6 separate regions of the Homo sapiens genome follow, and regions 1, 2, 3, 4 and 5 are each reported to be linked to region 6. The links are microRNA targets in miRTarBase. Many come from high-throughput screens and were not tested one by one. Region 6 holds a microRNA gene; each other region holds the end of a gene's coding sequence.
The links. Region 6 holds the annotated microRNA hsa-miR-7160-5p (UGCUGAGGUCCGGGCUGUGCC, at 1,698-1,718, shown strand). A microRNA usually pairs through its seed, bases 2 to 8, with sites in the 3' UTR of a target mRNA and lowers its output. Matches are read on the target gene's strand: a 7mer-m8 pairs with bases 2 to 8, a 7mer-A1 pairs with bases 2 to 7 and ends in A, and an 8mer does both.

Region 1: miRTarBase lists NRIP3 as a target of hsa-miR-7160-5p. Seed matches in the 3' UTR shown: 7mer-m8 at 2,880-2,886 and 7mer-m8 at 3,013-3,019.
Region 2: the mRNA of SRRD is a reported target of hsa-miR-7160-5p. Seed matches in the 3' UTR shown: 7mer-m8 at 1,156-1,162, 7mer-m8 at 1,640-1,646, 7mer-m8 at 2,117-2,123 and 7mer-m8 at 3,492-3,498.
Region 3: the mRNA of ACBD7 is a reported target of hsa-miR-7160-5p. Seed matches in the 3' UTR shown: 7mer-A1 at 801-807, 7mer-m8 at 1,246-1,252 and 7mer-A1 at 2,250-2,256.
Region 4: the mRNA of STEEP1 is a reported target of hsa-miR-7160-5p. Seed matches in the 3' UTR shown: 7mer-m8 at 935-941.
Region 5: miRTarBase lists TMEM216 as a target of hsa-miR-7160-5p. Seed matches in the 3' UTR shown: 7mer-A1 at 467-473.

What each region holds. Positions count from the first base shown.
Region 1 is chr11:8,980,146-8,984,251 of GRCh38, reverse strand. It overlaps NRIP3 (nuclear receptor interacting protein 3), which reads left to right. Exons shown (of 7, transcript NM_020645.3): 5 at 128-180; 6 at 283-377; 7 at 692-3,676. The coding sequence ends at 707. Among named protein-coding and RNA genes, the nearest start is that of TMEM9B-AS1, 18 kb to the right of the region's middle.
Region 2 is chr22:26,491,025-26,495,024 of GRCh38, forward strand. SRRD (SRR1 domain containing) reads left to right here. Exons shown (of 7, transcript NM_001013694.3): 6 at 1-46; 7 at 439-3,634. The coding sequence ends at 648. TFIP11 (tuftelin interacting protein 11) reads right to left here. Exons shown (of 15, transcript NM_012143.4): 13 at 3,773-3,915; 14 at 3,115-3,280; 15 at 216-1,344. The coding sequence ends at 989. Among named protein-coding and RNA genes, the nearest start is that of SRRD, 9.1 kb to the left of the region's middle. RefSeq lists an enhancer at 2,264-3,463.
Region 3 is chr10:15,074,921-15,079,022 of GRCh38, reverse strand. ACBD7 (acyl-CoA binding domain containing 7) reads left to right here. Exons shown (of 4, transcript NM_001039844.3): 2 at 1-100; 3 at 270-332; 4 at 420-3,548. The coding sequence ends at 493. It overlaps ACBD7-DCLRE1CP1 (ACBD7-DCLRE1CP1 readthrough), which reads left to right. Exons shown (of 8, transcript NR_144471.1): 2 at 1-100. Among named protein-coding and RNA genes, the nearest start is that of ACBD7, 12 kb to the left of the region's middle.
Region 4 is chrX:119,536,264-119,540,369 of GRCh38, reverse strand. STEEP1 (STING1 ER exit protein 1) reads left to right here. Exons shown (of 7, transcript NM_022101.4): 7 at 581-2,221. The coding sequence ends at 643. Among named protein-coding and RNA genes, the nearest start is that of STEEP1, 27 kb to the left of the region's middle.
Region 5 is chr11:61,397,958-61,402,062 of GRCh38, forward strand. It overlaps TMEM216 (transmembrane protein 216), which reads left to right. Exons shown (of 5, transcript NM_001173990.3): 4 at 1-18; 5 at 313-889. The coding sequence ends at 319. Among named protein-coding and RNA genes, the nearest start is that of TMEM216, 7.4 kb to the left of the region's middle.
Region 6 is chr8:2,074,892-2,078,997 of GRCh38, forward strand. It overlaps MIR7160 (microRNA 7160), which reads left to right and starts at 1,698; the gene lies at 1,698-1,749. It overlaps MYOM2 (myomesin 2), which reads left to right. Exons shown (of 37, transcript NM_003970.4): 11 at 1,250-1,391; 12 at 3,843-4,042.

The DNA.
Region 1 (4,106 bases), not on the chromosome of region 6:
TAACACATGCTCAATATATGTTTATTGGATGTTATTGGATGGATGGATGGAACCTAATAGTGATTAGGCCAACTTCTAAGCAAGCATGGAAATGGCTAAATCTTAATCATTTTTTTGTTTTTATTAGATGACAATGAGAAAAACTTGTCCCTTGGTCTACAGACTCTCCGATCTCTGAAGGTAAGATTGACTCCACTTACCCCTTGATACTTCCTCTCTGAGGCAGGTATCCTCTTACACAGGAACTCATAGTGGTATCACTGACAAGTTACCTGTTTTCAGTGCATCATAAACTTGGATAAGCACCGGCTGATCATGGGGAAGACAGACAAGGAAGAAATCCCTTTTGTGGAGACAGTCTCTTTGAATGAAGACAAGTGAGTGCCCAAATGGGTCAGATCAAGTCACATCCATTTGTCATCAGCTGCGAGCAGGGTGGTGGTGGTTCTCAGACAGGACATGGGGTTGTATCCTGTCTTTGGCTTTCAATTATACTACAAATCCACCCTTCCCCACACCCAGAGTTCATCACCCCACAAAACTCTGTAGTGCACACATCAGAATGAGCAATGGTGATGCCACACAGAGTGGTAGGGAAATGACTAGCTTTGAAAGCAAAATTTTACTTGCCTTCAGCTTAACTTTTTTTGAATTTGGCATTATTTCTCCTGATATTTATTTCTCATTTCAGCACTTCAGAAGCATAACTACAGCCTGCAGCATGTCTGCACGTGTGCATGCATACACACCGGGTTGACAGATAGAGAAAACTGGGTTTGAACCAAATGCCGTAGTGACTTGCTGTGGACCAAGTCCTTCCATCTAATAGAAGCTCCAGGGGCTCCTTCCCATTCAGACCTCTCTAGACTATAGTCTATGCTTAGAGATCTTGTCTGGTTATGGCCATTGTTTTTTACTACTTTGATCACTTAACTTATAGACCTTTTTTGACACTGCCAGTCTCACTTGTGGCCTATTTCTCTGCTTCTTCCAGGAATTTGCTTTTATTAGTCAAGTATAGGGGCTGCCAGGTTCTGTGTCTCCATAGATATATGTGCTTCTTTTCCTATAGCTAAATGTATAATAAACAGGAACCTGACCTTTACCTCCTTTCAGCTGTTTCAAACAGGTGCCAGGATACCTATGTCTTAGAATTAGAGTTTCTTCAAATTGATTCATTGATTTCTCAAGTATGGATTATGTGAAAGAGCCCAGGGACATTATCCATTACAGTTTAACTCTTTCATTTAAAGGTCCAGAGAGGCAAGTGAATTGTCTAAGTTCATATATTAGGTCAGTGACTGAAGGGACCAAGAACGCAGACCTGATTTCCAAGCCAAGACTCCCATGCTGCCTCATTTGTATTCAAGCCTTTAACAGGAGGGCAAAGAGGTGAGAATGTGTTAAAAAAAAAAAAAAAAAGGCAGAGCATGGGAGGAATATTCTCTGGAGATGGATGCTAGGATGATTTGGGTAGCTCTCCCTCCTGTGTGCCAAGCCCAGTAAAAGTTCCTTGCCCCAAACTGTCACATTTAGGCCCTCATCTTGGTGCCTAAAAACGAGCGTACAAAGATGAATGAAATGGTTTCTCACTGTGAACCTCTTGGAGGAAAGGAGGAACCACAGACAGAGGAATATTAATCCCTCTCTGATATGGAATTGAAGGCTTAAGTAAATCAGAGTGTCACTGTCAGACGTTGATTACTCCCAAGATCCGATCAGCATTTCTGCCCATCCTATTATGTGTCTGTCAAGGACTGAAGTAGCTGGAAACCAGGAGTAGAGAAAGATGGGGGGAAAAAAAGAGCAAGGCCAGAATAGAAGGGAGTAGACTGAGTAGAATCAGTTGGTGGAGAGGCCTATCTAGATAAACCTTTCTGGGAGGCAGGGAATGACATTTTCAGGCAGGGAATTGAGATGTTCAGTTCTGTCCTGATACAAGGAAAGAGGCAGAGCAGGAGCCGGCAATGTTAAGGACAACTTTTTATAACTGCCCAGTATTTCCTGACCCCTGTCAAAGGTTGGGGAGAATACAAGGTTTCTTGAAGCTTTTTGACTGGGGTGTCACATTAGGCACACAGGTGTCTATAATGGAATCTCCCCTTCAGTTTGGTCATAGAAGTGCTTGGACAAGTCAGAAAAATAGCTAGCTGTGGGTATCCCTTTAAGATATTCCCAAGTCTACCCTGTGTCATAGCAGTAGTTCTCAGAGTGTTTGTTTAAAGGATCCCACTTTGAACTTTGCCAAGTACTACCAACTACCTTGTCTGGTGTTCAGCAACTGCCCCTACTGAACAGCCCTTTGGAACTCTGAATGATTTGGGCCTCACAGAAGCTCCCTAAAGCCTAGGAACTTGGTGACTATCATTTGAACAACTAGGCAGCCATACTGCAGTCAGTTGTCATGGGGTCATTCCCTAGGCCCCCTTCCTATCAGCCTCTACCTAAAGAAGCTAGATAGGAAGCTAAGCACAGCCATGGTTGGGAGGCTATATCTAAAGCTCATGAGGGGTGATCCCGGGGTTACCAGCCTTCAGCACTCCCTCTAGCAACACCCCATTCTCTTACCTAGCGGGGATTTGTACCTTTCCACTGAGGCCTCTCCATGCTCCTTCCCTACCTTTCATGGCAATACTTTGGCCTGCCTCTTATCCTGGTACTAAGTTGAAGTAAAGCTCACCCTTTACTTCCCTACTTGAAAGTTCTACTCTGAGCCTTGACTCTTAGCCACAGTGAGGCATGTTGAAGGTTCCTGCTGGTTTATTCTTTTTTTTTTTTTTTTTTTAGACAGAGTCTCACTCTGTTGCCCAGGCTGGAGTGCAGTGGCACGATCTCGGTTCACTGCAAGCTCCGCCTCCCGGGTTCATGCCATTCTCCTGCCTCAGCCTCCCAAGTAGCTGGGACTACAGGCACCTGCCACCACGCCTGGCTAATTTTTTGTATTTTTAGTAGAGACGGGTTTCACCGTGTTAGCTAGGATGGTCTCGATCTCCTGACCTTGTGGTCCGCCCACCTCAGCCTCCCAAAGTGCTGGGATTACAGGCGTGAGCCACCGCACCCGGCCTTCATTCACTTTCTTTAAATGCCTCCAAGTTGATTATTCTCCTAGCTCATATCTCCTTGATGTGCATGAGGGAGCACTGGGTCTAATTTTTGGGGGCTGAGAAGGTAAGAAGGTGAGGTCAGTTTTTCCCAGGAGTCCTAAAAAATTCTGGTACCTTACATTGAGGGTGTGGGAGAAAGGGTGTCATAGTTCTGAAAATAGGCAGTAGCATGAAGCACCAGACCTGTCTCATTCCTTATTAGATGTCTATCTCAAATAACAGAGTTTGAAAAATATTGGTTTTATCATTTGATATTTCCATGCCTGACTCGGGAAAATAACATTTTCTGACTTCTTTCTATTTTCTTGCCCTGCACAGACCCTACCTGGTACAATTTTCTATTTCTTAGCTCAAAGTGTCTATACAATGGGTTGCCTGGTATGTCAGCTGCCCTCACTCTTGTGTAATAGAAATATATTGCCAGGCTGGGGACGTGGAGGAGACGAACTGGATTCCTCCCTCCTCCTGTTGCCAGGCCTCTCTGCATTGGCACTTTATCCTTTCAGTGTTTCTGGCTGTGTTGGGTTCATTTGTGAGACTGATGTAACAATAAAGTGAAATCTTCCCCTCTGTGTGCTTGTCTGACAAAGTCTTTGTGTCAGGGCTCCAGTCTGGAAGGTGGGGGAGACTAGGTAAAGTCTAATTGCATCAGCATTTTTCTCTTAGGGTCTCCTGTTCCTCCATTGCTACTGGCCCTTCAGGTGTCTCTTACTGACTGTATGTCGAGCACATTAGCAAACCTCACTGAGCTTGGTTTTGTAATCTATAAAACAGAAGTAATAAAAGTGCTTACCTCACAGTGTCAAATAAGAAAATCCATATAGAGTGGTTGGCATATGGTAGTCACTCAGAACTTCATATACGGGAACAATCTTTTATGGTGGACCTGTCAGCAGTCCGAGAGAACACTTCTAGAAAAGGAAATATAGCTGGACGCGGTGGCTCACACCTGTAATCCCAGCACTCTGGAAGGCTGAGGCTGGAGGATTACTTGAGCCCACG
Region 2 (4,000 bases), not on the chromosome of region 6:
GTTGTTGGCAAGGATTCTGCAGAAAAATTATCCCTACATTGCAAAGGTATCTATCTGAATAAAGGGGCTGGGATGGAAAAGGGTGTGAAACTGTGAAGAATTCTATCTTTCTTTACAGGCGTAGGAGGAAACTCATGGGCTAAGTGGCGCTAGTGTACTGTCAGCTCTCTCCATGGGTCTGTGTTCCAGAAAGCTATGACTCTTTAATGCATCTCTTAGTTTTTTCCTTATTTCCTTTATTCTTAGTATCACAGTCCATGATATCCACTGTCCTTGGGGCGCCCAATTCATTGTGCAAAAGCATTTAAATCAAAATACCCTATTTGTTATTTTTTTAAAAAGTAAAGTGGGGATGACAAGTAAAGTGGAAATTTATCCCAGAAGAGTGGGGATTACTGTGACTATCTGAAGTTTTTATACTTGAATTTTTCTGCTCAGATTTTAAAAGGACTGGAGGAGCTTGAGTTTCCTCAGACTTCACAATACATGGACATATTTAATGATACCTCTGTCCACTGGTTCCCTGTGCAAAAGCTAGAACAGCTCTCCATAGATATTTGGGAGTTTCGGGAAGAACCAGATTATCAGGACTGTGAGGACCTTGAAATCATCAGGAACAAGAGAGAAGATCCTTCTGCTACTGACTGAACTCGTTGTGAGGTACTCAGTGTTGGCTGAGGTAGAAGCTGCCACCAGAGACTAAAGGGAAGGCTGCTATGGAGGAACTACAGAGAACTCCTTTGCCAGGAAAGAACATCAACTTGGCTGTCCTGTTTTGAGGACGATACCCCACATGAGGACTTGGTATAAAGATTCCTGCCCTACGTGGCATTGTCCCATTTTACATCCTTCCCTCATGACCTGGCCTGATGTGGAGTAGCTCCTGAGTAAAGAAGTTACCCTTTTGAAGGTGATCTAAAAATACTGTTTATTTACAGTACATCCCTCTTAGGGGCAAGTCTCTGACTGGTTCTGGACCTGCCACAGTTCACTTGGCCATGTCGATCAGGCTCTGCAGTGAGGTGGGCACCCACGTCTTCTCGCCCTGGACAAAGACCACTCCCCGGTCGATGTAGATCACAATGCGGCCAAAGGTGTAGAGCTGCTTCCCTTCGTGTCGCTTCCCAATGACGGGCATGAAGACAATGTTGTGCTCCTCAGCCTTGGTCTCAATGAGGTCCTTAAAGTTCATGGGCACAGAGCTAGCGGCCACGCCAATGCCCCTCTGAGCCATGTTCTCAGCCTCCCGCCTCTCCTGCATGGCCTCGTACTGGAAGTCCTTCCTCCGCTCCGTGTGGGTGAGATAGGCAATGTTCTCCCGTGCTCCTGGCTGCATGTAGGCACCTAAGATACAGGAGGACAGGGCGGTGAGGAGAGGTGTTTCCAGGTGTATGGAAGTTGACACTGTGGCTTGGCCCAGGTCTTGGGTGTGCCAGAGTGCTTGTGACTCACTGAAGGGCAGCTCTGCCTCAAAGATACAACTTTGGAGGAAGTTTAGACGACTGGCCAGTATCACATAAAAACTGTTCAGAAGGTTCCTGGCTAGTATCTAGTAACCAGATTATTAATATTCAACATTTTAAAATGAAGTATCTGCAAGGGATTTCTTCCTTCAGAGCTGGAAACATTAACAGAGAGTCCTCAGCCACTCTTCTGTTCCCACCTTGCTCTGTAGAGTTTCCATTTCCCACCACCAAAGAGGCAGCTTTTAGTACCTTGAAAACATAGGGCCCATACTGGCTTTATTTTTAACCTACCCACACAGGGCCCCCATCCTGAAAGAAGTTCACATATATTTAGGGAGCTGAAATGAGTGTTTAAAGGATAATACCAAGACCATAAATGCTAAGTGCTAATTGAGGGGTATATTCAGGGAACAGTTTTGGAAACATGAGGCCAAGGGTAGCTAAGGAAGAGTTTTTAGAAAAAACTTGATAATTACAGAAGCAGAGAAGTATATTTGCCTTATTACTTAATCTCTGTTTTCACAGAATAGGCTATTTTTCTTTTTTTTTTTTTGAGACCGAGTCTCGCTCTTGTCACCTAGGCTGGAGTGCAGTGCTTGCAATCTCGGCTCACTACAACCTCTGCCTCCCAGGTTTAAGCGATTCTTCTGCCTCAGCCTCCTAAGTAGCTGGCATTACAGGCATGTGCCACCGCGCCCGGCTAATTTTTGCATTTTTAGTAGAGACGGGGTTTCACCATGTTGGTCAGGCTGGTCTCGAACTCCTGACCTCGTGATCTACCCGCCTCGGCCTCCCAAAGTGCTAGGATTACAGGCGTGAGCCACCGTGCCTGGCCTAGGCTATTAAATAACAAGAATTAAAGACTCAGGAAATAGAAATTCCAGTTCTAACTGCCACCCTTTAACTATGTGACCTTGAACAGGCTCTCAGCCTCGCTGGGCTTATCTGTAAAACACAGACTAGACGATCCCATTTCAATGCTGCGAATCGGCTAATGAGCAACACTGGAGCACAGGACTGGTTGAAATAGGCTCCCAAATGTAGAAACATAAATATACTCTCACTTACTTATGATCTAGGCAGAATGACTTACCTAGAACTTGGGAACAGATATAGTACACGAACAGTGAACTGCCTGTTTTTGACAACACAGACACCACCTATTGAAGGCTATACACAAGCATGAACTCACTCTCCCTTTTAGCCTATAAAGTAGATCTTACTGTTTAACAGGTAAAATGGGGCTGATTAAGGCTGAGCAATCACCAAGTGTCAGACCGCGTGCCAAACTCCACACTGTAAGATGCGTCACCTAAGCAGCATGCTCAGGCATGAATGAGCCTTAAAAGGCCACACAGCACAGTGGTTAAGAGGGCGGGGCCTGGGGTTAGACTGACATCATCTGAATCCAGCTTAAGTCAGTCTCCACTCAGGGAAGATGCCCCTCTCAGTCATGGTAGACCTGGGCAGTGGGTGCCAGCTGACCATGTACCCCAGTCAGCAGGGTGAGAGTCTGTTGCTATGTGCAAAAGTGTGACCTAAGGTTTAGGCTGCCTACAGGAACCAGAAAACTCTGATTCTGTGTCATTTACATGTGTAAAATCTGAAACTTGGGGCCAGGACATCCAAAATGGGAATCCTCACTTACCAACGTTGGAGGACACCGCCCGGTTCATGATATCAAGTGCCTCATTAAATTTGTCCTTGACAGATGGATGTGCCAGCACTTGGTCTGAGAACATCGACTTCCAACCCAGGTACCACTTGGTGATCTCCTCATAATTTGGGCTGTTACTGAGCCAAGAGCACAGCACCTGCCAAAAAGAAAAATTACTTGCATCCATCGTGGCAACAAATGAAGGCAAGATTTCTGAAGTGGCCATTTGTTTTGTTTTGATCCTGGTCCTACAGGCTAGTGACACTACTTTACAGGGATTTATAGTAGCTAAACAGTCTAGCACTTATGAATATGGATTTTGGAGTCAGCCTGGTAGCTAAAGTGCCCTTGCATGTAAACTCTCTGAGCCTCAGCTTCCATGTCTACACAACAGGGATACCATATCCCCTACCCCATAGGGTTGCTGAGAGGAGCTGAGATAAAGCAAATAAAGTGCTTGGAACAGCTTCTGATACATGGCAAATGTCCAATAAATGGTGCCCACTATGAAGATGACCTAACTCATTCCTACCCTACCATGTAATTTATTTTCATTATGGAATTGTACCTACAGTCAGGCCTTGGCAGAAAATTAACTTAATCCCCACCCAGTTCCCTCCCCCAGAAATCCAAGCAAAACAAAGTGTACCTGAAGCCACTTGGGGAAGAAGTGCTTTTCAAGAAGTCCCACCAGGCTAGAGACAGAGATCATCCCTTCCCAGTCAATCACCCAATAGAATGCATCCATGTGCTGCTGGTGGGGGTTAATGACTAGCTCACCAAGACACATCCCTGGAAGAGAAACCCGGTCTGTAAGGCACAGCTTTAGTACTGGCAAAGCCAAAGAAGCACAAAGAGCAAAGACAATGTCCGTTTT
Region 3 (4,102 bases), not on the chromosome of region 6:
GCAGAAGATGTGAGGAAGCTGAAAGCAAGACCAGATGATGGAGAACTGAAAGAACTCTATGGGCTTTACAAACAAGCAATAGTTGGAGACATTAATATTGGTATTATATATTATTAATATTAATATATTCATATGTTACAATTAATATATTAATTGCGATTATAATATATAATTACTTAAAATATAGTAATATACTCCGTTTGAACAATGTCTATAGAAGTGCACAGTAAAATGTTAACCTGCAAATGCATGTCTCCTTCTTTTGCCAGCGTGTCCAGGAATGCTAGATTTAAAAGGCAAAGCCAAATGGGAAGCATGGAACCTCAAAAAAGGTTTTTTAGTCTTTCACAAGTTTAAAGCAAACTTTCTTAATTTCCCAGTGCACCAATCAGGGAGATAACCTGTTTGTATCTTTCTAGGGTTGTCGACGGAAGATGCGACGAGTGCCTATATTTCTAAAGCAAAGGAGCTGATAGAAAAATACGGAATTTAGAATACAGCATATGAGGAATTTTTCCTTTTGAAGACTTCCAAATGCTATCATGACCTAACATTTAGAGGGAGAGGCATACTGTTAACTTGATGTATCATGTATATTTTTGCTATTAGCATGAGCTGTAGTACTTAGAAGTATACTGAAACTACATAGTTAACTCAATTGTACTTGCTTAAACCAGGTGTCTTTAAAAGTTCTTTTTAAGAAAATGTGGCACATATACACCATGGAATACTATGGAGCCATAAAAAGGGATGAGTTCATGTCCTTTGCAGGGACATGGATGAAGCTGGAAACCATCATTCTCAGCAAACTATCACAAGATCAGAAAACCAAGCATGTTCTCACTCATAAGTGGGAGTTGAACAATGAGAACACATGGACACAGGGAAGGGAACATCACACACTGGGGCCTGTCGGGGACTAGGGGGTTAGGGGAGGGATAACATTAGGAGACATACCTGATGTAGGTGACCGGTTGATGGGTACAGCAAACCACCATGGCACATGTATACCTATGTAACAAAACTGCACGTTCTGCATATGTATCCCAGAACTTAAAGTATAAAAAAAAAAATTCTTTTAGAAAAGTATTTTTTATTTTTATAGAGTTAGGGAGTACAGTTGCAGTTTTTGTTTGTTTGTTTGTTTTTTCTTGAGGAGTCTCACTCTGTCACCCAGGCTGGAGTGCAGTCGTGTGATCTCGGTTCACTGCAACCTCCGCCTCCTGGGTTCAAGTGATTCTCTTGCCTCAGCCTCCCGAGTAGCTGGGATTACAGGTGCTTGCCACCATGGCTGGCTAATTTTTGTATTTTTAGTAGAGACGGGGTTTTGCCATGTTGGCCAGGCTGGTCTCGAACTCCTGACCTCAGGTGATCTGCCCACCTTGGCGCTGGGGTTGCAGGTGTGAGCCACCACACCTGGTCACAGGTGCAGTTTTGTTACATGGATATATTGTGTAGTGGGGAAATCTGGGCTTTTAGTGTAACCATCACCAAAATACTGTACATTGTACCCAAAAGGTAATTGCTCATCCCTCACCCCCTCCCACCTTTCCAAGCCTCCAGTGTCTATTATTCCACACTCCATGACCCTGTATACACCCTGTTTAACTCCCACTTATAAGTGAAAACATGTGGTATTTTTTTTTGTTTCTGAGGGTTCTTTAAAAATCTTTATTTTCTTATTTTTTTCTGAGTTGTTTCACTTAAGATAATAGCCTCCAGTTCCACCCACGTTGCTGCAAAAGCCGTAATTTCATTCTCTTTATATGGCTGAGTAATATCCCCTGGTATACATATACAACGTTTTCTTTATCCCATCATCTGCTGATGGATACTTAGGTTGATTCCATATCTTTGCTCTTGTGAATTGTGCTGCAATAGATATACAAGTGCAGGTATCTTTTGGATAGAATGATTTATTTTCCTTTAAGAAGATACCCAGTAGTGGGATTGCTGGGTAGAATGGTAGTTCTATTTTTAGTTCCATGAGAAATTTCCGTGCTGTTTTTCATAGAGGTTGTACTAATTTACATTCCCACCAATAGTGTATAAGCATTCCCTTTTCTCCACATCTGTTGTTTTTTGACTTTTTAGAAAGTCTAGCCCTGGTAATATGTGTACAGATTTGAACAGCTGTTTGTTCTTTTGGCTCATCTGTTCTGTTACAATAAGTTAATGTTACTGGTGAAATAAAAACAGGTTATTAAGAATCAATGGCAAGGCTGAGCGTGGTGGCTCACGCCTCTAATCTCAGCACTTTGGGAGGCCGAGGTAGGTGGATTACTGAGGTCAGAAGTTCGAGACCAGCCTGACCAACATTGCAAAACCCCATCTCTACTAAAAATACAAAAATTAGCCAGCCATTGGTGGTGCACACCTGTAATTCCAGCTACTTGGGAGGCTGAGGCAGGAGAATTGCTTTTACCCAGGAGATGGAGGTTGCAGTGAGCCAAGATCACACCACTGCACTCCAGCCTGGGCGACAAAACAAGACTCCGTCTCAAAAAAAAAAAAAAAAATTACAAGTCTGTCCATAGCAGTTTAAAGAAATTTAAAAAGCCCCCATAGGAATATCTATTTTTCTTTAAATTTTTACATTTAAGACATTTAAGACAAAAAGGCAAACTAAAATGTATCTAGTGATAAACTGTACCACTACTGTACCCCATATGTTCAGTTCTATCTGAGTAAAAATAGAGTCTGGAATATAATATTGGCCCCCTACTCAGTCTTTCTGGATGGTACACAGGCTCTTTGAAAGAAGACAGTCTCATGTTAACAATTCAAAAAATTGTTTGAGATCCCTTAAGATAAATATCCCCCAAAACAGTGTACCTCTATTCCCTGCATAAAAATTTAGATTTGGAATGGTATGACCAGAGGAATAGATCCACTTCATGTTACTACAACAACAAAACTATCTAGGTCTGCTAGATGAATTTCCAGGGAATTATGCTGAGCAGAAAAAGCCAGTCCCCAAATGTGACATGTATAATTCCATTTATATAACATTCTTTTTCTTTTCTTTTTTTTTTTTTTTTTTTTTGTTGAGACAGGCTGTCACTCTGTTACCCAGGCTGGAGCGCAGTGGCACGCTCTCGGCTCACTGCAACCTCTGCCTCCCAGGGTCAAGCAATCCTCCCATCTCAGCCTCCAGAGTAGCTGGGACTACAGGTGCGTGCAACCATGCCCAGCTAATTTTTGTATTTTTCATAGAGACAGGGTTTCACCATGTTGCCCAGGCTGGTCTGGAACTCCTGATCTGAGGTGATCTACCCACCTTGGCCCCCCAAAGTGCTGAGACTATAGGCATGAGCCACCGCGTCCAGCCAGGATTCTTGAAAGGGAACATTTATAGACGCAAAGGATGGAATAGTGGTTGCCAGGGAGGAGGGAGGTGGGTGTGGCTTTAAAAGGGCAGCAGGAGGGATGATCCTGCAGTGATGGAATGTTCTGTCTTGATTGTAGCAACACCAATATGCTGATTGTGATATTATACTATAGTTTTGCATAACAGTTACCATTAAAGGAAATTGGGTAAAAGGCTACACAAATCTCTCTGTATTATTTCTTACAAATAAAAGGGAATCTGCAGTTACCTCAAAAAGTTTACTTTTAAAAATCGAGGTTGATTTCTCATCGGGAAAATTTTGGCAATCAAGATAATTCTCATCTTTCTAAATTTCGCCTAATGATAGACGTCTTCCACGATGATACCAAGGCCTAATTCCTTCAAAGAGAAGACATCATCAATGATAGACTTGGTGTCTTACAGTTGAGGGCTTGAAAACTCCTGAAAGTTGTTCCCATGTGGACTTTACCTCCACCAGGTAGAGATGCAGGGGAAAAAGCTTACCCCCAAAGCCTGGCATTTGTTCCATCATGAAACTTCAGTTTGCAGACTATACTGACTAAACATTTTTCAAATTAATAATCACGAATCCTAATTATTATTATTATTTTTGAGACAGAGTCTCATTCTGTCGCCAAGACTGGAGTGCAGTGGCATGGTCTTGGCTCACTGCAACCTCCACCTCCCGGGTTCAAGTGATTCTCTTGCCTCAGCTTCCCTAGTAGCTGGGATTACAGGCGTCCGCCACCA
Region 4 (4,106 bases), not on the chromosome of region 6:
TCAAAGGCAGAAAGACCAGTGCTTTCCTTTTTTCAAATTTCCATGAACAGATTTGTAATTTATAAAATACAATAAAAATGAATTGTCTCAATTTTTATCAGATTTTAAAAATTACTATTGTGTCAAATTGCTATAAAAGCTTCTAAATGCTTACTATCCATTTTTGTACATATTTTGTGTGGACCAATAACAAATAGTTCATAGACCATATAACTTTAAGTAGCACTGTTGTAGAATGATGTTCTTCCTGTTCTGCCAAGAATAGCATACTGGTATGCCACAGTATTGGTTCCCTCAGCCTGTGGGGGGCGCTGGGGCTGCTGGAATCCCTGCGCTGATTTCCTGTGGCCACAGCCTTGTCTTTTTGCCCATTTTGCCTACAAATAGCATTTTTTGTGTATGTGCTATAACATCAGAAAGGTTGGAAAGTAGATGTTAGAGGTATATAATGATTTGGGAACCATGATTCTAGTTTGTACACTAAATGAACATTAAGGGAGAGTGTTTGGGTTGGTTAGAATAAGGAAGGAAAATAATTTCATGTCATGTATCAAGACATATGCTTTTTTTTTCTTTCTAGGCTGAATTGGAAGCCAAGAAAGCGAAAATGAAGGGGACCTTGATTGACAACCAGTTCAAATAACCAGGCCTTTTTCTAAGCCCTAGACTAGAGGCAAGCATTTAGATCAGGAGGCAAAGTAATTTCTTGATTACATAGACGGATTCCTATTTATGCCCTAGCAGAAGGCTTTACGTTGTTTCCCATTGATTCTCCTACATTCAGTGAGGTCTTTAACTGAGTCCATTTAACTTGCTTTCTTTTTTTTTTTTTTTTTTTTGAGATAAAGTCTTGCTCTTTCGCCCAGGATGGAGTGCAGTGGTGCGATCTCGGCTCACTGCAACCTCCGCCTCCCGGGTTCAAGCAGTTCTCCTGCCTCAGCCTCCTGAGTAGCTGGGATTACAGGCATGTGCCACCACGCCTGGCTAATTTTTGTATTTTTAGTAGAGACGGGTTCCACCATGTTGGCCAGGCTGGTCTCCAACTCCTGACCTCAAATGATCCACCCACCTAGGCCTCCCAAAGTGCTGGGATTACAGGAGTGAGCCACCGTGCCCAGCCTTGCCCTGCTTTCTAGGAGATGGAGTTTTCTGAATTTTTCTGTATTTAGGTTTTCTGTACTATTTTTTGTCCACTTGATGCAAACTTCTTCAGCTGTGTAGAAACTTTATGAATAGATGAGTGCTTGAGTGTCTCCAGTCTCTAAAGTGGCTGCTTTTATTCTTTCTTCAAAGTTAATAACATGTTGCAAGATTTTTGGACAAAATATTATGGTGTGTCATAGGAAAAGCACCATGAATTATATTTAGGTATAGCAAGTCAGATCCTTTGAAGTGACTCTGTCTCTGTTCTTAGAAGGGTTCTTGGAATTGGCTGTGGTTTGAATCTTTCTACTGTCAGAGGAGACCCATTAAAAGCCAGAATCTGCATAAAGCTTTCTTTACTTCAAACACTGAAGCTGTAGGCGAGCCATCCCGTATCGACTTTATACTCAAAGAAGGAAAAGCCAGATTGCAGTGAGTGGGTAGGACAGCTCAGATCCAAATGAAAGTAGGGTCTCAAGTAACCCAAGGGTGGCCGGGTACGGTGGCTCACGCCTGTAATCCTAGCAGTTTGGGAGGCAGAGGCGGGCAGATTGCCTGAGCTCAGGAGTTTGAGACCAGCCTGGGCAACATGGTGAAACCCTGTCTCTACTAAAATACAAAAGAAATTAGCCAGGTGTGGCGGCATACCCCTGTAGTCACGGCTACTTGGGAGGCAGAGGCAGGAGAATTGCTTGAACTCGGGAGGTGGAGGTTGCAGTGAGCTGAGATTGCACCACTGTACTCCAGCACTCCAGCCTGGGCGACAGAGTGAGACTCTGTCTCTACAAAAAAAAAAAAAAAAAAAAGTAACCCAAGGGAGGGAGCTACCCTCTAGTCGGGCAGCTGATACTGCTTCCTTGCATGGATACATGGGAGGGAGACGTTATAGATTAAGAAATGATAGCAAGATAAACAAAATGATTTGTTGGGTATCTTTTACTTTACATTTGTTATTTGCAGAGGAGTGTTGTATATATAGATGTTATTTTATGTCACACTGCTTCAATGATACCTATATCCATGTGTTTGTATCCATGTTTTTATCCATTCAACTGTATTAAAAGGTGTTGGGACAGGAGTTGTGTTAACCTTCTTGTATTATCTACAAAAAGTTGCACTTAGTAGGTGCCCAAGGCAGGTTCGTGAGGTGCTACCGGGAGATGATAGTAGGATAGTAGGGCAGGTTTTTTTTTGTTTGTATGTTTTTGTTTTTGTTTGGTTTGTTTGTTTGTTTTGCTTTTTTTCTGATCTCCTTATTTGCAAGGCAAAGTAGGTTAGATGTGAGCTAGCAAGAACTGGGAAAAAGAGGGGTGGGGGTCCCAGGAAGGCCCAGGATGGGGCTGTGTTACCTTCTTCCCAGTTATTTTCCTGTATCCAGTGAAGTCTTCGCAACCAATTCTTCCTCTCTACCTTGTTTCCCGTCCTCATTCTGAGAGATAATTAACCGTCATGTGGATGAGAAACCATAACCTTACAGTTCCTTAACCTCAACTCCAGACAGTGACCTTTACCTTTCCTGCACTTTAGCCACAAACTCCCATACCACAGCCTGGATGTCATCCACTCCACCTCTGAAATCCAGTACTCTGCTCTCTGACCACAACCTATCCTTGCTACTCTCATGTGCTCACTTCCTCTAAACCTATTTTATTTTGTTTTTAGATTTGAAGGGTGATTATTTTATTAACAGTAATAATGAAAAAATAGTAGTAAGAATAGCAACAATAATACTAGCTACCTTTTATTGAGCACTTACTATGTGTTGGATGCCATGGAAAGCACTTTACAGGTATTATCTTAATCTAAACAACACGACATCCTACGGGACAGGATTAACTGTTACCATCCTTGTTTTAGAAATGAGTACTCCGAGGCTCAGAGAGTTTTAAGTTTCTCAAGATCCTATAGCCCAGTAAGCAATAAAGCCAAAAATCTGACTCTAAAACCTGAGCTCTTAACTATGCTGAACTCCCTCTATGAACTTAAAACATATATGTTATTCAGAACAGATTATAATTTCATTTTGAAAAATAAAGTGCAAAGTCAAGACAGTTGCATAGAGGACCCCCTGTAGCAAGTGTATGGTTACCTTTCTACATATTTTCTGAAATACTTGTCTTTAGATACTAATCCTAAACCATTTCAACATCTGGTTGAAATTACACATGTTGCTTCATCTATAAGACTGTAAAACGTCATTAGCACCAAGCAAGCATATGCTTTTCATTATGTTTTACTCTTTTTTTTTTTTTTTTTTTTAGAGATGGAGTCTCGCTCTGTCGCCCAGACTGGAGTGCAGTGGCACGATCTCGGCTCACTGCAAGCTCCGCCTCCCGGGTTTACGCCATTCTCCTGCCTCAGCCTCCCGAGTAGCTGGGACTGCAGGCACCTGCCACCATGCCCGGCTAATTTTTGTATTTTTTTTTTTAGTAGAGACGGGGTTTCACTGTGTTAGCCAGGATGGTCTCCATCTCCTGACCTTGTGATCCACCTGCCTCAGCCTCCCAAAGTGCTGGGATTACAGGTGTGAGCCACCACACCTCATATTTAAATAGTTATTAAAATAACATGATATGTTAGTATTTAGTTTCTCTATTTTCTTTATTAACTTGTATTTTAACAGGAAATACAGCGTTTTGCTGTTGGTATGAAGAGCCATGTTGACATTTTGGAGAGTCTTATCATATTTTTGTTTTTGTTTTTGCAAATTATCAAGTATGACAAAACATTAAAATGTTGCAAAATGTTCTCTATTAATTAGTGACATTTGGAAATGTCACTTTATTTTTTAAGATAAATTGAAAAGATTTTTAAAAAACTAGGTTGCCTGAGCCATTTTAGGTTCCATGTCACTCTGCCCATGTCTCCTTGGTCTCTAATTTGCAACAGTTTCTTCATGGTATCTTGTAATTTTAATTTGCATTTCCCTAATGGCAGATGGTGTGGAACATACTGTTTTCCTT
Region 5 (4,105 bases), not on the chromosome of region 6:
CTTGGCTGCTTTCTCCAGGTACTGCTGCTGAGGGACCATTTCTCATCACTAGAGGGTTGGGTTCCCATCCCAGGGAGGGATTCAGTATTCTTCTGAAGCCTAAGGGGTCTAGAAGACTTTTTTCTAGAGGGAGGAAGGGGTGGCTATGGGATTGCCTTTCCTGTTTAGGGTAGGTAGATCGTTTCCCACTCAGGGAAGATACTCTCCCTATCCTTTGGGGCCAGGAGGCTTGGAATATAGAACAGTCGAGGCCAGCTGCTCTCATTCACTGGTCTTTTAACATTTTCTTTCTTTCTGCCATCGTATGGACAGGATTTGAAGTACAGAATTTCAGCCAGCAGCCCATCAGGCTGACACCACACATATTGCTTCTGGTACTTTAGCCACACCAGTGAGAATTGGTGGGGCAAGTTGTCCTGAGAAAGGCTGTGTGGCTTTTCTTCAGCACAGACATTTGGGCAAGCAACTCAGCATAAGGCCAGTGGGTACCATCTTCTAAACCAGGACCATCAGCCCAAGAGACTCTTCTACACTCCAGTATAGGGAGGGGCAAGGTTATTCCCATCCTGCCCCTTCTCAGAACCAGTCCCCTGCTGACCTCAAGTTCTCCTCCTTGATCACCGTGGCCAGAGCATCTCGTGTGGACCATCTAGGCTCCTTGGGCTTCAAGCAGGACCTGAGCCACATGCTCCCTGTACGAGCTGTGCTATACCTGTCCCACATGAGCACGGAGAGCCTCATGTTGGTGGGTTTCCAGAGTGATGTGAAAGCCTCTCACCCCAATCCTCGGAGACTGAGTTCCACAACTTTTTTAGTAGCTCATAGTGTTATTTTTCTACTCTCTTCATGAAACTAACTTTATTTTATAATAAATATGTATTTTCTGTTGTGGGGGTTGCAGCCTTTCCTTATGGCACCTGTCCCTAGAATTCATCCACTCCAAGAGAGGGTCATGACTATCCCAGCAGTTTGTTCTCAGGAGCTTTGCTTAGTGATACAGTGTGGACAAAAGGCAGTGATGACCACTGATTTTCTTCCCCAAGCTGCAGCCTAAATTAAACCCTAAATGCACTGCCATCCTCTGTATCTTCAAGTCTCTCGTCATGCAAAAGACTGCTTATTTGCTTCACTCTGCCCCAAAGTCAGCATCTTGTCTCACTCCTCTTACAGATAATTGTTAGCTTTTTTCCAGTGGGCCATGTGAAACTGGAAGAAGCATATTCTAAACTAACTTTTTTTTTTTTTTTAATTTTGGAGACAGTGTCTCAGTCTGTCATCCAGGCTGCAGTGCAGTGGCATGATCTTGGCTCACTGCAACCTCTGCCTCCCTAGCTCACGTGATCCTCCCACATCAGCCTCTCAAGTAGCTGGGACTACAGGCACACACCACCATGCCTGGCTTTTTTTTTTTTTTTTTGAGACGGAGTCTCGCTCTGTCACCTAGACTGGAGTACAGTGGCATGATCTCGGCTCACTGCAACCTCCGCCTCCTGGGTTCAAGTGATTCTTCTGCCTCAGCCTCCCGAGTAGCTGGGAATACAGGTGTGCACCACCATGCCGGGCTAATTTTTTTTTGTATTTTTAGTAGAGACGGGGTTTCACCATGCTGGCCAGGCTGGTCTCAAACTCCTGACCTCGTGGTCTGCCTGCTGGCCTACCAAAGTGCTGGGATTACAGGCATGAGCCACCGTGCCCAGCCCACTAATTTTTGTATTTATTGTAGAGATGGGGTCTTTGTTGCTCAGGCTGGTCTGTAACTCCTGGGCTCAAGCGATCCTCCCGCCTCTACCTCCTAATGTGCTCGGATTATAGGTGTGAGCCACTGCAACCAGCTGATGTTTTTTTTTTTTTTTTTTTGGTCATTTATTTTAGTATTTTGAGGCCTGGCACAGTGGCTTACACTTGTGATCCCAACATTTTGGGAGGCTGAAGCAGGAGGATTGCATGATTCCAGGAATTTGTGACCAGCCTGGGTAATATGGTGAGAACCTTGTCTCTACAAAAAATTTAAAAACAAGCCAGGTGTGGTGATGCGCACCTGTAGTCCCAGCTATTCAGGAGGCTGTGGCAGGAGGATAGCTTGAGCCCAGGAGGTCAAGACTGTAGTGAGCTATGTTTGTACCACTGTACTCCAGCCTGTGCAGGAGTGAGACCCTGTCTCAAAAATAAAATTTTGAGTCAACATAAAAGGAACACTTTTTTTTTTTTTTAAGCTGGAGAACTGTCACTCTAGATCAATGTATACTTTCTTTCTCCAAGTAAGCATCTTTAAAATTATTCCTCATTTCCTTGGTAGTGGCCATGTTTTTTAATTCCAAGAAGCCACGAGGAGCCATGACGGAATCCACTTCAGAAAACCTTGAGGCTCTTCTGTTTTCAGATGAATCCTAGATTATCTGCTCTTACTCGAAGTAAAATGTAACTTTAAGCATTCTATGCTGGCTTTAACTCTTACTTTCTATGATCAAGCTCATTCTTATCCTGAGGGGCTCTGCTGTCCAAAGCACTGATGTTTTTTCTTGTTTCCTACCCCTTCTGTGCCCTTGCCTCCCAGTTGCCCTTGGGGACTATCCAAAAACCAGAGTAGACAGGTCTAATCAGCCATGACACAGTAACAAAACCTTCAATAGGAACTGCCCTGATAATTACAAATCCCACTAATACCAATTTTCTGCTACTTTCTCCCTGTGTTGAAGAAATCGCTGGTATCAAACTGGAAGAGAGCCCATTCTGTATGGCCTATTTAGAGGTTCACTGGTTAAGCTCACTGCCACAGCAATATAAATGATTGGAAGGCTCAATTGGAAGTTGAAGGGTGCCTTATAAAATCCATTAGAATTTAAAGACCTATTTTAGAGATGAACCAAGTCTTACCCCCGACTTTGCAGGCTTAGAGATGAGAAGTGACATAACCAGCACCACACATCTGGTTATTAACAGGTGGAACTAGAAATCTTGCCTTAGGAGTCTGTCTGGATCAAGGAAATTCCATTTCCTCATACTTGAGAATGAGGATGATGGTTGAAAATGAGGCTGTGATTAGGAATAGGAAGTCCTCTCATTTACTGGGTGGTTATGTGGAAGTTTAGTGCATTGTGCTTCCTGTGGGTTGCGTGATAAATGTTCATTTTTCCTGATGCTTGTTGGAACCACCTGTGTAGATGCAGTTAGTCACATAATTAGGACATACAACAGAAACTGAGGCAGTGGAGGCCTGGCACAGTGGCTTACACTTGTGATCCCAACATTTTGGGATCACAGAAATCAGTGTAGCTAGTCTTTCAGATTTATCGTGGCCAGAGGCTGTGCTCACTAGAGTCAAGGGAAGCTGCTTTACAGTCCACACAGAGCTGGAGGTACCAAAATTCTGGGACAGTGGAGAGAACTGAGCAAAGCAACAGGCCCTGGTCATAAGCTTGGCAGAGGCCTGCTCAGCTACTCACACTCATGGCTAGAACCAGCAAGTGACTGCAGTGGTCTCGCCCAGTTTAGGAAGCATTTAGGGCAGATTGATTCTAGCTCCATACCATGGCAGCAGCTTGTGGAGACTACTAATCATCCAGTGCCTGGCAAAGTGTATTTCATTCATATAATGATCCTATGAGGCAGAAGGAAATTAATCAGATGTTAAGTCATGTGTCCAAGGGCATTCAGCTTAGAAATGGAACTGGGATTTGAACCTAGAGTAACCATAAAATCCTTCCTTTTCTACACCACCATGGTACCTCCTAGATGAAGCTGAATTTTGCCTCTAAGCTACTAGTCCTCACAATTTAGTTTACAAGTCATCTGGGGCATAAAAACCAGACACCTAGACCTTATGTAGAGATTGCTACAGCACAGGAACAGGTGTCTTAGCAAGCATGACGTACAACTAAGATGTGGGTTACCATGGAACCCAATTTGAAAGTAATAGTTTTACATTCTAAGGTATTCCAACTATTTTTTTTCCTTAAGTTTCACATCTTGATAGACCCTCTACGGAATCTCTTCTCCTAAAGCTTGTTTTTACAGTGATCTTGCCATTCCTGGTACCATACACATTATCATCTGGTCTGTGGTTCACTTTTTTTTTAAATCATTGAACCCTCCTTCACCTGGCTTT
Region 6 (4,106 bases):
CCTGCGCCATGTAGCTGCTGCTGCTCTCCGGGTCCCCGGGCTCCCGGCTCCATCCCGATCAGCCGGGCATCCTTACCTGCTGCCCAAGTTCTCACCTTCCCACCTGCCTCCAGCTCCAGTGGGGTGCAGGACGCATCCATACATCTTCATGATTACTTTTTCCATTGCATCCATTAGATCAGAGCTTAAAGGAAGGACTGTATCATTAAAGAATATTTCATCTGAAAAGAAAGAGAAGAAATGTCAACCAAACGTATCTCACCCTCCTCACTTCCCACACGATAGCCTGAGCTTGCGAGTCTGTGAGGTTAGACACTCCCGCCAAGTTTCACTGCTGTTGTTAGGCGGGCGTTAAATGTCCCTTCCGTCTTCTGCATGTGCCTGCTGGTATGATGCTCCGCCCCATAAAAAGGCAATAAATGCAACACGGCTCAAATCGCCTTGCTCACTCAGCACCAGCAACAGGAGGAAAATAAGGCAAAGGTGGGGAGTTTAACCATTTTCATCGCTTTCTGAGGCTTTTGAATGTGAGAGGAAACCATTTGGCTCAATGTCAGGAAATCCTCAGCTTTTAATACCCTGAAGATATGTGAGCAGGAAACTGGATAGTGCTCACCCTGCTAAGCATGCGTCACAGGGCAGCCAGGGCTGCTGAATAAATACATAGTTTAGATAAGAAGGTTCACATTCAGTGTATTAACTTTCTATGTTGCTCTGTTGGTTTTCATGCAGCTGTAATTAAACCTAATTGCATTAGGGTCATCAATAGACTGAGAAACGAATGATGCAATATTGTCCCAAATATTTGCTCAAAGTTGGCGAAAAGAGTAAATCGCCCAATTTCCTAAGGATTTTGAAATAGAAGAGTATCTCAGGTGATATTTCTCAGGTGTTAGAAATGCCAGATTATTGTCACTGTTTCATCCGCACATTTTTGCCAACGTGCCGTTATGCACCATAGCAGGACCAAGAGAAGATGACCTGTAATTCAGGATCTAATGACGAAAAATTGTAGACTCAGTGTTTTATCAAGGATTCTATGTTTTGAAGCTTTTTAATTCATACATAATTTTATATTTCTTGTCACCAACCCGCCAGAGTAAGAAATATTCTAGTACTTTGAACATGAGAATTAAACAGTGGTCAAATCAAGGGGATAGAATTGGAGCTTGGAGGAGCTGTAAACAGGCTTTGCAGTGACCCCAGCCTTTAAATGACAGGCGTGTGCCTTTTCTCTCCCTGCCCCAAGATGCTGACCCGCTGGTCACAGGGGCCCCCGGTGCACCCATGGACTTGCAGTGCCACGACGCCAACCGGGACTACGTCATCGTGACCTGGAAGCCGCCCAACACCACCACTGAGAGCCCCGTCATGGGCTATTTTGTGGACCGGTGAGCGTCTTGCATTCTCCCGGGGATGGGAACGTTCCGCATGGAATCTTACCATGGACAATATATTGAGAAATTTTTCTCAATGCAGGTTGACGTTCCCATTTTTTGATTGGCTCTAGGTACATGGCTAATTGGTTGTATAAGTTCCTATTTAGGTAATTGGTAAATACGGCCAAGTAGGCTGAGCCCAGCATAACCACACTGGGTTTCTTTTTGTTGAAAGTGGAGGCTCGTTTGCCTGTTGCACACCCAGTAACCAATCCCACCAACGTCTTCAGGCTCACTCTGAGCCCCGCGCTGTGGTTCTGCTGAGGTCCGGGCTGTGCCCCGTACCGGACAGGGCCCTGGCTTTAGCAGAATTAAAGCTTGGAACTGTCCTTCCCTCCTGAGAGACAAAGTGCTGCGAAGAATGCCAGCTCATTTCTAACAAAGTTCTTTCCTTTTCTCTACTGAGGAATAAGGTGTTCTTCTTGTTTCCAAGTGAAAAATCTTGAGCTTCGAAATACTGGAGTTTGTGTTTGAGTTGATAACTTACATTTAGGTCATCGTTGGAGCCAGTGGAGTTTGAATTCTTTGACTTCCCGTACTGGGGACAGCGCTTGGAGCCTGGGAAGTGTACTGCACAGAGCCAGTGGGTTTACTGGATATGTAATTTATGCCCTAAATACAAATTCCAGTTCTTGGAGTAAATTATAGTTGAAGAAAATGAATTTAGAAATTAGACAGAGAGTAAAAGAGGATGGTTCTGGCTGGGCACGGTGGCTCACGCCTGTAATCCCAGCACTTTGGGAGGCCAACGCGGGCGGATTACAAGTTCAGGAGATCAAGAGCATGCTGGCCAGCATGGTGAAACCCTGTCTCTACTAAAAATACAAAAATTAGCTGGGTGTGCTGGCATGTGCTTATAATCCCAGCTTCTTGGGAGGCTGAGGCAGGAGCATCTCTTGAACCAGGGAGGCGGTGGTTGCAGTGAGCCAAGATTGCGCCACTGGACTCCAGCCTGGCAACACAGTGAGACTCCACCATCAAAAAAAACAAAACAAAACAAAAAACAAAAAAACAAAACAAAAAAACCACAAAGGATGGTTCCTGGTAGAAATGCAAAATTTTATATGTATATTAAACAGAAAAATAAGGTGATTATCTTAGGAAAAAATGAGGGAATTGGCTTTTGTTTGTTTGTTTGTTTATGCTGATTAAATTCTCTTTTCTCTTCCAACAAAACTACTTGTTTGGCTGAGACCTGTGCCATCAAACTAATATTTTGATATGCTAGAGACAGTTCTGCAGGGAGTGCTGTTCCGGGCTTACCTTGAATTAAGCAACTACAGCAAGAAAAACAAACCCTCAAAACGATCTTCTTTTCTCCTGGGACAGCTGATAAGTTTTCCCGCCATGTTGACAAAAACCATTTCCTGCACTGTCTCAGCTAACAATCCACGCTCCTCCCCTCATTACAAAAAGCGCAAACATGAAATTCAAAGCAACGGAACACTTTGGGAATGAGGGTGCATTTGGAAGTGGGGGGTGCAGCTCCTCCTCTGCCCTTCCTTTGGGCTTACGACTTGCCAGCTGTTGCCTGAAGTTGCAGGTTTTCCCATCAGACTTTTGGTTTTGACCTGTTGTTCTCTTCGGCTAAAACAGCCCATGACATGTGGATCAGACAGCTTTCATTAAAAGTGCTGGATACTTAGGAGGAGAGCTGGTTCTTTCCCAGATGAAGGCACCACTCTGGGGTTGAAGTGCTCCCTCCCAACACTGATTTTCTGAACTAGCTCTTTTCTCCTGGGAATTTCATGTGAAGGTTTTTTTCTTACATTTTTCAACCTGTGAAAAACAGAGGTTAATCTTTCCTATATTTCCAGGTTTCTGGTCAGGAATTAATATTTTCAAAAGACTTCTAAATTCCACATGAGAGGCATTCTAGAAAGAAATGTCCTAACATTATTCTAGGAGACTGTAAGCCAGCTTTCCCAGGGACCTGGGCCCTTGGTCTCACAGAGTGGGACGGGAGCTGGAGGCAGAGGGGGCTGAGCCTGTTTCCCCAGCCTGGGCCTCAGACGGGCCAAGCCGCAGCTTAGGGGTGCCGTGACTATGTCACGTAAGTCGGAACAAGAACTGTTCAGGATGCGTCTAAAATAATTTTTTGAGGAGATTTTTGCCTAAATGTGTTTGATGACAGAAATTGATCTTCAGCTATAAATTATTAAGATTCATGGGCATATATTACATATATAATAGATATTACATATAATATATATATTGCATTTTCTAAATAGCTCTGTCTTCTAATGTTTATCTATACAAGTCAATATCTTAGCAGCAAAGATTTTACTGGCGTGAGATATTGTCCTGTTATAATCAGTGTGTGCATATATGCATATACCTATGTATATTTAGTAGGTTGCCACATTTGCTATTCTCTGTTGTTTTTCTTTTTTTAACTTGAAGATGTGAAGTAGGAACGAATAATTGGGTGCAGTGCAATGATGCACCGGTGAAAATCTGCAAATACCCGGTCACAGGGCTTTTTGAAGGAAGGTCTTACATATTCCGAGTGAGGGCAGTGAACAGTGCGGGCATCAGCCGACCCTCCAGGGTCTCTGATGCGGTGGCTGCACTTGACCCCTTGGACCTCAGAAGGTTACAAGGTAAGCTGCTCACGCCTAAGTATCCACTGTGCCCAGGAAGCTTTGGCTGTTTTGTGTGTGATTT